Homo sapiens: one gene and its partner. The protein of the gene in region 1 purifies or fractionates together with the protein of each later gene. This does not show direct contact. Each region holds a gene or a part of one and is shown in the gene's direction. Other genes may lie near its edges.

The links. The genes of interacting proteins can lie anywhere in the genome.
Region 2: the proteins of HTR1E (region 1) and CFAP74 purify together in Homo sapiens (affinity purification with mass spectrometry; 2 studies listed by BioGRID and IntAct, with this or other methods). This does not show direct contact.

What each region holds. Positions count from the first base shown.
Region 1 is NC_000006.12:87,010,510-87,017,183, forward strand, and holds the end of HTR1E (5-hydroxytryptamine receptor 1E), read left to right. Parts: intron 1-4,640; 5' UTR 4,641-4,825; coding exon 4,826-5,923; 3' UTR 5,924-6,170; downstream 6,171-6,674. UniProt on the Homo sapiens protein: G-protein coupled receptor for 5-hydroxytryptamine (serotonin). Also functions as a receptor for various alkaloids and psychoactive substances.
Region 2 is NC_000001.11:2,000,765-2,008,728, reverse strand, and holds the start of CFAP74 (cilia- and flagella-associated protein 74), read left to right. Parts: upstream 1-4,942; 5' UTR 4,943-5,028; intron 5,029-7,964. UniProt on the Homo sapiens protein: As part of the central apparatus of the cilium axoneme may play a role in cilium movement. May play an important role in sperm architecture and function.

The sequences.
Region 1 (6,674 bases):
GGGCGGCGGGGCAGAGGCGCTCCCCACATCTCAGACGATGGGCGGCCGGGCAGAGACGCTCCTCACTTCCTAGATGTGATGGCGGCTGGGAAGAGGCGCTCCTCACTTCCTAGATGGGATGGCGGCCGGGCGGAGACGCTCCTCACTTTCCAGACTGGGCAGCCAGGCAGAGGGGCTCCTCACATCCCAGACGATGGGCGGCCAGGCAGAGACACTCCTCACTTCCCAGACGGGGTGGCGGCCGGGCAGAGGCTGCAATCTCGGCACTTTGGGAGGCCAAGGCAGGCGGCTGCTCCTTGCCCTCGGGCCCCGCGGGGCCCGTCCGCTCCTCCAGCCGCTGCCTCCCGGGCGGCGCTCGCCGGCCTATACGCCACACTTCTTATCGCCCTCCTTGTCTGCAATTTATTTAAGAAACTGGGTGATTTAACCCGTGAATTTTTTTACAGTTTGGATTCCAATGATTGCATAATCAAAAGGTAGTTTAACATGTTTCTTGATTCTCTGTGGTTTCTTTAAAGTAGTTATTGGTCTAAGATGCTTAAACTTTTAATACATTGACTTTAGACAGCTTCAACTCCATTTGCAATAGCTACTATGTGACCTCTGAATTTTTGGTAGGCAAGAGGTAAAGCAATTGCAGCCCAGAACATCATGTGGAGCCAGGAAATGCTGCTAGGAGAGAGGGTGGCTAAGCTGACAGAGTTGAGGGCAGTTTTCCTGGATCAGTTTAGAGGCCATGTGCAAAACAGAAACCTTGCAGCAGGAGGGAATGACTTATCAAAGGGAAGTGGTATCTGGAAGTGTCTAGGAATGGACAGAAGTCAGTACTTAACACAGGTTGACTGGGAAAATGCTGGGAAGTAAATAGAGAAAGGCAAGTATACCCTGGGTTCCTTCAAAGCAGTTCAGGAAAATATTCTCTAAATGATGGTGGTTACATGCAACGTAAATGAGTTGATCAGGAATGCTCCAGGTCCACCAGCATGTTAAACTTTTAATGGTTGAGACGTTATATAATATTTTCTGGTAATTCAAAGTCTTAGCAAAACTTTGTGGTAAGGATATTTGTCCCATATTTCAGATAACTCTAAGAATGCTAGGAAAGGGGAATATGTCAACAAGAAATGTTACATGTATGGCTGGATGCTATTTTCTATTTTTTCCCTTTCCTTCAGTCAAGCATGTGGCCTGGTTTATGCTTCCTTACCTCACAGATATTTCAGAAAGCGGAAGTATCAGACAGTAATCCCTATTTATGTTCTCAAAAGCCAAGCCCATAGGAGATTTATTAATAAAAGATTTGTAAATAAGTAAAAAAGGAAAAGAGAGCTTTTAATAGGTGGCTGAAAGGGTTAGAAAAAAAAATGAAGGAAGAAAGGAATTTCTCCAATGGTCTACATACCTTTCCCGCGCAAAATGGAGGAACAGAAAAGATCCTGGGGGTCTAAGACTTGGGCCAGAAGTTCTGGAAGTGCCTTGAAGAGTCTATAATATTTTAAAAAGGGATACATGCATGGTGTGGCTAGGGACTTAGGGGCTAGGCATGGGGTTCCCAACCTTAGGACATTTCCTAAGCGTGTTACGGAAGCAGTCTGGGGATCTGAAAGAACTGTAGGAGTGGGGGACAGTAAATATCTTACCAGGGACTTTCTCTGTGCATGCAACATCTGAAACCCCTCTCCCCAACCAAACCTCAATGCCTTGGCCCTAAATAATCCTCCAGAGACTTGGGGGTGTGGTTGGGGTTAGAGAAAGTCTCAAGCATGAGAAGTGAGAAGCTTAGAAGCAGCAATTAGGTTGACACATGTTCTCACTTATAACCGGGAGCTAAATATTGAATAACACATGAACACAAAGAAGGGAGCAATAGATACCAGAGCCTACATGAGGGTAGAGGGTGAGTGGAGGGTGAGATTTGAAAAACTACCTTTTGGGTACTATGCTTATTACCTAGGTGGTGAAATAAGCTGTACACCAAACCCTGCAACACACAGTTTACCCATGAAACAAATCTGCACTTGTACCCTCAAAACCTAAAATAAAAGTTGGAAAGAAAAAAAAGAAAGAACAAAATTAAGTTGACTTATTTTTAATAGGCTTTTATTACACATCAGAGTTTGTGGGATGAAATCTGTCTCCATTACCCAATGCAAAAATCACTGGGAAAATTAGTATAACAAATGACCGCAAACACTTACATAGTACTTACTATGTATTAGGCGTTGTTCTCAGCTTCTACGTGTATTAACACATTTGATCTTCACACTACTTACTTTAGAGAAAGATGTCATTATTCCTGATTTAAAGAGGAGGAAATTGAAGCAGGCTAACGTTAAAGAACATGCTTAGGATTACACTGCAGCTGACAAGTGGCAGGGTCAGCATTCAGAGTCCATGTGGGTAGTCACCACTCCAAGCTTTCTCTCCAAAACCGCTGACTCAGGCACACTTTTTAGGTTAAAGTAAATCAGGACTTATGAAGTGAAATGTCAGTTTTCTAATGGAGGAACCAGATCCAAAATATAAAACCCTCTTTAAGATAATTTTTAAGATGAGCAGGTGCCAGCTGACTCCTCCTTCTTGATAATGCTTAGGTGCTTTGGAAACTCTTCCTGGATGAGAAAGAGATTCTTGTCCCTCTTCATCTGCTGCAAAGGACAAAGCCCCAGAAGAATAATATGCCAAAGTCGGCCTTAACATCTATCATCCCTATAACCTCATCTCCCTGGTGCTCTGACCTTCACTGGGATGGTATAAAGCAGAGGCTCTAGAGTATCCCTGGAAATGAGGAGCAGCGTACACTAACCAGTTTGGTTTAGAGTAATTCTCTCCTATTTGTAATTTTTATGAAAAACAATTTAAATATGGCCTTGGACTCATGATATTTTTTATGTCACAATAAAGTGGAAATTTAAAGTTACAAATCCCCAAAAAGGTCCTCCATCAACTCCTCATAGGATGTATCCATTTTTAGCTCTGATTATTGCAGTTAACTTTCCAAAGTGCTGGGATTACAGGTGTGAGCCACCACGCCAGCATATTTACTGTGAAAGTTTAAAATCTGATTTGAAAGCTGCTTATTATAAGCAATATAATTTTTTCTTTAACGGCCCCAGAATGTTTAATGTTACATAATATGAATATATATTTTCAAATGTAAAAAAAAGCCTTTTTATATATAAACATGTATAAAAGAATAAATATAAATAAGAAATTAATTGGGGTGGCAAAGTACATTTAAAATTTTGTGATGTTTTTGTCAAAAACGATTTGAACAAATTTATAGGAAAAAAACAAACAACCCCATCAAAAAGTGGGCGAAGGATATGAACAGCCACTTCTCAAAAGAAAACATTTATGCAACCAACAAACATATGAAAAAAAGCTCATCATCACTGTCATTAGAGAAATGCAAATCAAAACCACAATGAGATACCATTTCACGCCAGTTAGAATGGTGATCATTAAAAAGCCATCATTCTGAGCAAACTATCGCAAGGACAGAAAACCAGACACCACATGTTCTCACTCATAGGTGGGAATTGAACAATGAGAACACCTGGACACAGGGCAGGGAACACCACACACCCGGGCCTGTCGTGGGGTCGGGGGACGGGGGAGTGATAGCATTAGGAGAAATACCTAATGTAAATGACGAGTTAAAGGATGCAGCAAACCAACACGGCACATGTATACATATGTAACAAACCTGCATGTTGTGCACCTGTACCCTAGAACTTAAAGTATAATAATAATAATAATAATAATAATAATAATAATAATAAGGCAGGAAGCAACAGATGCTGGAAAGGATGTGAAGAAATAGGAATGCTTTTACACTGTTGGTGGGAGTGTAAATTAGATCAACCATTGTGGAAGACAGTATGGCGATTCCTCAAGGTTCCAGAACCAGAAATAACATTTGACTCAGCAATCCTATTACTGGGTATATACCCAAAGGATTTTAAATTATTCTACTCTAAAGACACATGGACATGTATGTTTATTGCAGCACTATTCACAATAGCAAAGACTTGGAACCAACCCAAATGCCCATCAGTGATAGACTGGATAAAGAAAATGTGGCACATATACATCATGGAATACTATGCAGCCATAAAAAAGGATGAGTTCATGTCCTTTGCAGGGACATGGATGAGTTGGAAACCATATTCTCAACAAACTAACACAGGAACAGAAAACCAAACACCACATGCTCTCACTCACGAGTGGGAGTTGAACAATGAGAACACATGGGCACAGGGCCGGGAACATGACACACCAGGGCCTGTTGGGGGGTGGAGGGCTAGGGGAGGGATGGCATTAGGAGAAGTACCTAATGTAGATGATTGGTTGTTGGGTGCAGCAAACCACCATGGCACATGTATACCTATGTAGCAAACCTGCAAGTTCTGCACATGTATCCCAGAACTTAAAGTATAATTTAAAAAAAAACAGTTTGAAAACTTCCCTGAAGTAAAAAAAGTATCCTTTGAGGAACAATGTAACGATGAGCTCAAGTTCCACAGGAAAGAGAAAATTAAAATTTATAAAGAATTTATAAATATCAAACTATTTTCATGTTTTCCAGGAAAAGTGTGGCTTTCTCATTCATTAACCAATAGCATAATATTTTCCAGGAACCTTCACTCAGAAGAAATGCTGTGGCCCTTCCCTTTACCAACAGAAAATGGAACACAAGAGACCACATAGCTGAACAAATTATAGCCTCCTTACAAGTGAGAAACCTTCGAGGCTACATAGTTTTCAGCCAAAGGAAAATAACCAACAGCTTCTCCACAGTGTAGACTGAAACAAGGGAAACATGAACATCACAAACTGTACCACAGAGGCCAGCATGGCTATAAGACCCAAGACCATCACTGAGAAGATGCTCATTTGCATGACTCTGGTGGTCATCACCACCCTCACCACGTTGCTGAACTTGGCTGTGATCATGGCTATTGGCACCACCAAGAAGCTCCACCAGCCTGCCAACTACCTAATCTGTTCTCTGGCCGTGACGGACCTCCTGGTGGCAGTGCTCGTCATGCCCCTGAGCATCATCTACATTGTCATGGATCGCTGGAAGCTTGGGTACTTCCTCTGTGAGGTGTGGCTGAGTGTGGACATGACCTGCTGCACCTGCTCCATCCTCCACCTCTGTGTCATTGCCCTGGACAGGTACTGGGCCATCACCAATGCTATTGAATACGCCAGGAAGAGGACGGCCAAGAGGGCCGCGCTGATGATCCTTACCGTCTGGACCATCTCCATTTTCATCTCCATGCCCCCTCTGTTCTGGAGAAGCCACCGCCGCCTAAGCCCTCCCCCTAGTCAGTGCACCATCCAGCACGACCATGTTATCTACACCATTTACTCCACGCTGGGTGCGTTTTATATCCCCTTGACTTTGATACTGATTCTCTATTACCGGATTTACCACGCGGCCAAGAGCCTTTACCAGAAAAGGGGATCAAGTCGGCACTTAAGCAACAGAAGCACAGATAGCCAGAATTCTTTTGCAAGTTGTAAACTTACACAGACTTTCTGTGTGTCTGACTTCTCCACCTCAGACCCTACCACAGAGTTTGAAAAGTTCCATGCCTCCATCAGGATCCCCCCCTTCGACAATGATCTAGATCACCCAGGAGAACGTCAGCAGATCTCTAGCACCAGGGAACGGAAGGCAGCACGCATCCTGGGGCTGATTCTGGGTGCATTCATTTTATCCTGGCTGCCATTTTTCATCAAAGAGTTGATTGTGGGTCTGAGCATCTACACCGTGTCCTCGGAAGTGGCCGACTTTCTGACGTGGCTCGGTTATGTGAATTCTCTGATCAACCCTCTGCTCTATACGAGTTTTAATGAAGACTTTAAGCTGGCTTTTAAAAAGCTCATTAGATGCCGAGAGCATACTTAGACTGTAAAAAGCTAAAAGGCACGACTTTTTCCAGAGCCTCATGAGTGGATGGGGGTAAGGGGTGCAACTTATTAATTCTTGAACATACTTGGTTCAGGAGAGTTTGTAAGTATGTGTGGTCTTGTTTCCTTGTTTGTTTGTTTGTTTTGTTCTGTTTTGTTTGAGGATTGTTATTTGGCGTGCTGTTTTCTACCTCTGGTCTTATCTGTGATACATAATTTCAAATAAACATTATCATACAAAAACAGAAATTTTGTAGAAGTAATAATAAGATGAAATACTAAATACCTTTTATGGGTTTTTTTTTTTTAGCCATTTCAGTTACCCTGCAATTAAAGAATGCCAAAAATATCTTTATTTGCAGAATTTCTTATTACTTATAAATTAAATACCTGATAATGCCCTCCATGGCATTAAATCTGAGATTATGGCTCTATCTGCGTACATATTCCAGTGGGAATTGCATGACTACATAAAGAATTAAAAGAAAGTGATGTGCTGTCATCTACTGCTTGCAGACCTGAGCTAAAGTCGTTTGCTGTAGCACTGTGACTACATAGCCTATTCATTTCAGGTAAAAATAGTACAGCTGGCTTGTCCTTTTTAGTTCATGATTAAATAAACTTCCTCTTTTTCTAAAATGGAAATACCTGGAATAAATGCACTGGCACTTTTCTATGTCTTTTACTATGAATATAAAACATAAAGCAAATAACAAGTCATCTAAATCTACTTTGGTCAGTGTGTTGCA
Region 2 (7,964 bases), on another chromosome or scaffold:
CTCAGCCTCCTGGGTCCCTGGGACTACAGGCACCTGTCACCATGCCTGGCTAATTTTTGTATTTTTAGTAGAGATGGGGTTTCACCATGTCAGCCAGGCTGGTCTGGAACTCCCAACCTTGTCATCTGCCCGCCCCAACCTCCCAAAGTGCTGGGATTACCGGCGTGAGCCACTTCACCCGGCTCCAGATAATTTTTTTAAATTATTTTTTATAGAGCCGGGGTCTCACTATGTCGCCCAGGCTGAATGAACTCGTGGACACTAATATATTTGAAGTGCTTCAATCCACTGCAATTTACTTTTCCTTTTGATACTCAGTTGATGCTTACTTTCGCCAGTGAGAGCCCCTTCAAACTGGCAAATGGATCCTCCGAGACAAACTAGAATCTGTGTTAATTTTCCTGCTTGCTGTTATGATGAGATGTTCTGGGGTCATCTTGTATGTTTTCTGCCTCATGTCTGAAATCCGTCATTTTTCCAAGAAGCCATGGTTTCTTTTCAAGGGAAATGGCAGGAAGAAACAATGGTCTGTGTGCTCCTCGCACCGGGACTGGTGACCGTTTGTAGTCCAGCACAATCCCAGGAATGAGGGTCCTTGTTTCATGTCTGTGCTGTCCACTGGGGTAGCCACCGGCCACAGAGGACTACTCAGCACCTGCAATGTGGCTACTGCCACTGAGGAATGCAATTTTACATTTTATTTGATTTAATTTTTTTTTTGGACAGAGTTTTTGCACTGTTGCCCAGGCTAGAGTACAGTGGTACAATCTAGGCTCACTGCAACCTCCGCCTCCCGGGTTCAAGTGATTTTCCTGCCTCAGCCTCCCGAGTAGCTGGGATTACAGGTGCCCACCACCACGCCCAGCTAATTTTTGTATTTTTAGTAGAGACGGGGTTTTACCATGTTGGTCAGGTTGGTCTCGATCTCCTGACCTCAAGTGATCCATCCACCTTGGCCCTGCAAAGTGCTGGGATTACAGGTGTGAGCCACTGCGCATGGCCTGATTAAAACTTTTTAATGTGGTAAAATATACACAAAACTTAACCACCTTCCCTGTATTACTTATTTGTTTTTTCTTTTTCTTTTTTTTTTTTTTTTGAGATGGAGTCTTGTTCTGTCGCCCAGGCTGAAGTGCAGTTGCACATCTCAGCTCACTGCAACTCAAGGATTTCTTGAGGCCAGGAGTTCTACACCAGCCTGGAAAAGATAGTGAGACCTCATCTCTGCAAAAATAAAAATAAAAATGACCAGCTACACGGGAGGCTGAGGCAGGAGAATGGCATGAACCTGGGAGGTGGAGCTTGCAGTAAGCTGACATTGCGCCACTGCACTCCAGCCTGGGCGACAGAGCGAGACTCTGTCTCAAAAAATAATAATAATAAAATAAAATAGAAATGAATTAGCTGGGCATGGTGGTATACACATGTAGTCCCCGCTGCTTGGGAGGCTGAGGTGGGAGGCTCTCTTGAGCGCAGGAGGTGGAGGCTGCGGGGAGCCATGATGGAGTCGCCGCACTCCAGTCTGGGGAACAGAGCCAGACATTGTCTCTTTGAAAAAGTTACTTTCTGAGGCCAAGGCGGGCAGATCACTTGAGCTCAGGAGTTCGAGACCAGCCTGGCCAACATGGTGAAACCCCATCTCTACTAAAAATACAAAAAACTAGCCAGGCATTGAGGCTCATGCCTGTAATCTCAGCTACTTGGGAGGCTGAGGCAGGAGAATTGCTTGGATCCAGGAGGTGGAAGTTGCAGTGAGCCAAGATCACTCCATTGCACTCCAGCCTGGGTGACACAGCGAGACTCTGTCTAAAAATAAAAATAAAAAGTCACTCAAAATTATCCTTTTTTGTATGGCTAACCCCCCCACATGCCATACAATTAGGTTCATTTGTTTCATTCTGTCTCCAAGTTTTAGATGCTTTTCTATTTTGATTTATTTTTGGTTTTCTAATTACACAGTTCTATAACTGAATGTAAGCACATTTAAAGAGATCTACTTTCTATTCCTGTGTCCTTCTGCCCCAGATAGTAACCTTTTTAATGTAAAAATATATATATATTCTTATTGCCACTGCTCCTTCTTACATAAATACTATACACACTTTTCTGCATCTTGATTTTTTTTTTTTTTTGAGACAGGATCTCACTTGTCACCCAAGCTGGAGTGCAGTGACACAGTCACAGCTCAGGGCAGCATCAATCTCCCAGGCTCAAGAGGTCCTCCCACCTCAGCCTCCCGAGTAGCTGGGGCTACAGGTGTGCACCGCCATGGCCGGCTAATTTTTTTTGTATTTTTTTAGAGTCAGAGTTTCACCATGTTGCCCAGGCTGGTCTCAAACTCCTGGACTCAAGCGATCCTCCCACCTTGCCCCCCAAAGTGCTGGGATTAGAAGCGTGAGCCGCTGCACCTGGCTGGATTTTTTTTTTCTTTTTTGAGATGGGGTTCACTATGTTGCCAGGGCTGGAGTACAGTGGTACAATCATAGCTCACTGTAGCCTCAAACTCCTGGGCTTGAGCAATCCATCCTGCAGCTTCCCAAGTAGCTGGGACTACAGGCTCAAGCCACCATGCCTGGCTCAATTTTTTTTACTTAACAATATGTTCTGGAGTCACTCCACAGCAGAACATAGAAATAAATGGTCCTTATACCTTCTTTACAGCTGACCTCCATCGTGTAGCTGTTCCACAGCTTCCTTAACCAACCAGTTCCATGGACACGGGGCTGTTCTCAGGCTGTCACTGTCCTTTCCTTCTTTCCTAGACAGTATATATATATATATAGAGAGAGAGAGAGAGAGAACGAGAGAGAGAGAGAGAGAGAGAGTTGGAGTCTCGCTCTGTTGCCCAGGCTGGAGTGCAGTAGTGTGATCTTGGCTCACTGCAAACTCTGCTTCCTAGGTTCAAGTGATTCTCCTGTGTCAGCCTCTCGAGTAGCTGGGATTACAGGCATGCGCCACCACGCCCAGCTAGTTTTTGTATTTTAGTAGACAGGGGTTTCACCATGTTGGCCAGGCGGGTCTCGAACTCCTGACCTCAGGTGATCCACCTGCCTTGGCCTCCCAAAGTGCTGGGATTATAGGCGTGAGCCACTGTGCCCGGCCCTTTCCTAGAAAGTATATTAACAGTTCATTGGGAAAGGTCCAGGGAGGCAAAGTTGATAAGGAAGAAGCCCTATCATTTCCGTGGAGTCGGGAAGAAGTATAATCTCTCTTATAAAAGCGAACCTGGGCTGGTAATGGTGGCTTGGTTCTATTCCTCAGATTCTGAGGAGGAAAGCGATCTGGCACTGCGGAAGGTGGGTGAGTGCAGAGGTGCTGTGGTGTCACCCAGCTACTTTCCACAGCCATTCTCACGGGTGCTGGGCATTCTGCAAGGTGTCTTGCCTCTGATGGATCAGGTTATGGGCCAGGATAAAACCAAAGGACCTCCCAGGCCTCACTGTGGCATCAGGAGCCGGCCACCCTGCAAGCCCTACACATGGCGGGCTGAAAGACTGCCAGGGTAGGGGACGCGTCCAATTCACTCGTGAGCCCAGTTCTTGGCATAGAGTGGCCCGGTGAGAGACCACTCCCTTTCCTCACACTCCCATGTCTCCATTGCAAACGGCCCCCACGGACCAGCGGTGCGAGAAGAGGCTCCGGTGTAACAGGATGCACAGTGAGATGGGCTGGGCAGCGGGGGATGGGGACTGTGGGAAAGGCAATGGGGAACGTCGGAACCGGCTTGGCATGTTGGGCCCATCTTCCGTTTTGTTTTTTGTTTGTTTGTTTGTCTTGAGACAGAGTCTCGCTCTGTCGTTCAGGCTGGAGTGCAGTGGCGCAATCTTGGCTCGCTGCAACCTCCACCTCCCGGGTTCAAACGATTCTCCTGCCTCAGCCTCTGGGGTAGCTGGGACTGCAGGTGTGCGCCACCACACCCGGCTAATTTTTGTATTTTTAGTAGAGACAGGGTTTCACCATGTTGACCAGGATAGTCTCGAACTCCTGACCTCAAGTGATCTGCCCAACTCAGCCTCCCAAAGTGCTGGGATTACAGGCATGAGCCACTGTGCCCAACCGGGTTTTTGCTGTTTTTAATTTTGAAACAGGGTCTTGATTTCGCTCAGGCCAGAGTGTGATGGCACCATCATAGCTCACTGACTTTGCTATTTACTTTTACAATTTTTCAGTTGGAGCCTTTGCTGGAACATAACATTCAGAAGTCTTTTTTTTTTTTTTTTTTTTTTTGAGCCGGAGTCTCACTCTGTCATCCAGGCTGGAGTGCAGTGGTACGATCTTGGCTCACTGCAACCTCCTCCTCCTGGATTCAAGCGATTCTCCTGCCTCAGCCTCCTGAGTAGCTGGGATTACAGGCAGCTGCCACCATGCCCTGCTAATTTTTGTATATTTAGAAGAGACGGGGTTTCACCATGTTGGCGAAGCTGGTCTCGAACTCCTGACCTCAAGTGATCCGTCCACCTCGGCCTCCTAAATTGTTGGGATGACAGGTGTGAGCCACCGCGCCCAGCCCGATCTTCCATTTGCAAGAGAAGAGGAAAATCCCCATTTTCACGGGAAACCTCCTAGTTTTTTAGGTTGACAAACGACTCCAAACCATCATGCACCCGCCCCGGTCCTCTGGGCCAACGCGCCGGTGCTGAGCTCCTCCAGGCCCCCCAAGTCTGTCTGTCACCTCCAAGCCTTGGCCCTGGGCCAGGCCTGGCTGTCTGGGACCCCGGAGACGTCCCCGCCCCGCGGCCTGTGGCCTGGCCCTTCAGCCGCGCCTCGGGGCCCGCGACCTCCTTGCCCCGGCCCCGGCCCGCGCGGTCGGTGGTGGGTCGGACCAAACCACCCGCTCCAGCCGGGGAGCAGAACGGGCGAGGCTCCCCCTCCGGCCACGATGGAGTCTTCCGTTGCCATGGAGCTGCCCGCCCCAAACCACGCCGCCGGCGCCGCGGAGGGCAATCGCCAAGGACCGCCGCCTGCCTGAGCAGCCCGGGGTGTCTGTGCCTCCGGAGCCCGAGAACCTGGGACCCAGGCCAGCCAGAGGTGGGTGTGGGGGCGGATGCGTTTGACCCTGGGGCTGAGCTGGAAGGGTTTGACCCCCGCCCCCCAGGCAGAACTCCGTCCCATATGAAACGCCTTTCCCGGAAAGCTGTGCCAGAAAAATGACTTTGTTAATAGTTCTAGTCCCTGGTTCGTTTCAGGGAACCCCGGCGCTGGCACAGCCTCTGTTGAGGGACCCGCCCCTGACTTTGCAGCAGATGTTATAATAAAGTATTATTATAACACATTTACAAAAACATTAAACAAAAATCAAGGGCCAGCCTGTCTGGTGAACAGTTAAGACTCGTGAGTGTCTGCCTAGCTAAAAAGGAGAGCATGGTCCATAGCCCCAAAGTCATTTAGTTTTAGTATGTATAACCTAGTTTTGGAAGCTGATTTGCCTCTAGTATTTTGTTTTTCTTAAAGGAATACTCCTTTTATCTGCATAAGCCAGGTACTGAGGTAGTAAGCAGGCCTGCTGTAGGGCCCACAGTTGAAAAGAAATGGACTGATATTCTCTGCATAACGATGGTGCATAAATGCGCATGTGCGACTTAGAGATTGGTTATAAATCGAACATCAGTAGCCACTACCCAAGTTAAGAAATAGAACCTCATCAGCACCCCAAAGTCTCTCCCCCATGCCACTCACAGACCCGCTCTTCTTGACCATGGCTGACTTTTTCTTTAGTTTTACTACCTATGCATGCGTCCCTAAACAATATAGTTAACTTTCACTTATTTTAAACTTTATATAAACTTTATATTTATATAAAATTTTAAAGATGATATATAAATTTCTTTAGTTTTACTACCTATGCATGTGTCCCTAAACAATATAGTTAACTTTCACTTATTTTAAACTTTATATAAACTTTATATAAAATTTTAAAGAATATATGTGGTGTTATATAAACAATATATAATATAAATATATAGACTATATATAATGCCACATATAGTTTTATGTAAGTTTAATAATATATATTAAACTTCATATAATACTACATATATTCTTTAAATTTTTGTTTTTTTGAGACAGAGTCTCACTGTGTTGCCCAGGTTGGAATGCAGCAGGGCGATCTCGGCTCACTGCAACCTCCACCTCCTGGGTTCAAGCGATTCTCCTGCCTCAGCCTCCCAAGTAGCTGGGATTATAGCATGCCTGGCTAATTTTTGTATTTTTAGTATAGACGGGGTTTCCGCGTGTTGGCCAGGATGGTCTTGAACTCCTGATCTCAAATGATCCACCCACCTCCGCCTCCCAAAGTGCTGGAATTACAGGCGGTGAGCCACCACACCCAGCCAACTTTCATTTATTTTAAATTTTATATAAATTTATTTATATAAAATTTTAAAGAATATGTGTGGTATTATATAAGGTTTATATAAGTTTAATAATATATATAAACTTTATGTAATACCACATACATTCTTTAACATTTTTTGAAACAATCCCAAACTTGTATAAAAGTTGCAAGCTCAGCACAAAAAAACTTCTCGTGAAGGATTTGAGAGTAAGTTGCCTTCATGATGCTCTGTCGCCCCCCACCCTTGTAGAGTGTATTTTCCACAAACGAGGACATTCTCCAACACAGCCACACATGGCCCGAGTCAGGAGAGGACACAGGCCTGTTGCCGTGTTTACCCCTCAGCCTGTCAAACACGCTTTGCCAGTTGATTGCATCAGGGCCCCAGCGTGGAAGGATCCAGCCTAGAGTCACTTTGCACTGAATTCTCACATACCTCTTTATTCCCCTTCAGTCCAGAACATTCCTTGGCCTTGCTTTGGCTGTCATGACCCTGACACCTCTGAAGGTCATGGGCCAATTACTTTGGAGAAAGTCCCTCCATTTGGTTTCGTCTGCTGTGTCCTCGTGATTAGATTCCCACTGCACGTCTCGGACAGGAAAGTCGCAGAGGTGACACCGTGGCCTGTTCATTCCATCCAGTCAGTGGCTCACAGTGGTCACGTTGTCACGTTACTGATGATGTTCACTTTGAGCTCTTGATTAAGGTGGTATCTGCCAACATCTCCACTGGGAAGTTCTTTTTTCCTTCGTAATTAACAAGCATTTTGGCCGGGTGCAGTGGCTCACGCCTGTAATCCCAGCACTTTGGGAGGCTGAGGAGGGCGGATCACGAGGTCAGTAGATCGAGACCATCCTGGCTAACACGGTGAAACCGTCTCTACTAAAAATACAAAAATTAGCCAGGTGTGGTGGCGGTTGCCTGTAGTCCCAGCTACTCGGGAGGCTGAGGCAGGAGAATGGCGTGAACCCAGGAGGCGGAGTTTGCAGTGAGCCGACCCTGCGCCACTGCACTCCAGCCTGGGCGACAGAGCGAGACTCCGTCTCAAAAAAAAAAAAACAAAATGAAAAACAAAACAAAACAAAAACACAAGCATTTTGTAGGAGGTATTTGGAAGCTATGCAAATATGTCATCACTCCCAGGCTTGGCCTGGGAGGCTCTCATGGTGGACACCTTCTTCTCCTGCCTGGGCTCTGATACCCTCTGCTGGACCACACCTGGGGCCGCCCTCTTTCTTCTCAGGCTCTGACATCCAGCTCTGAGCCTCAGCCACGCACACCGGCACCCTCCTCACCCAGCCAGGCACCTGCAAACAGCTCTGAGCCTCAGCCACATACCCTCACCCTCCTCACCCAGCCAGGCTCCGACAGCCCAGCCTGGGCCACTGTGGATCCTGCTCCACCTGCCCTACCCAGGGAACCTACTGTGACAGTGAAGGGAAGGGGGAGAGGAAGAGCATCAGGCGGGCCTCTGTCTTTTTCTCCTCGGGGTTGTGCGAGAGATTCATCCACACAGTGGCACCGTGGCCATCGGGGCTGTCTCTAAGCCTCAGGACCTGAGAATATGACCTTATTTGGACTTACAGTGATGCCTGTAAGTAGCTAAGAGGAGGACATACTAGAATAGGG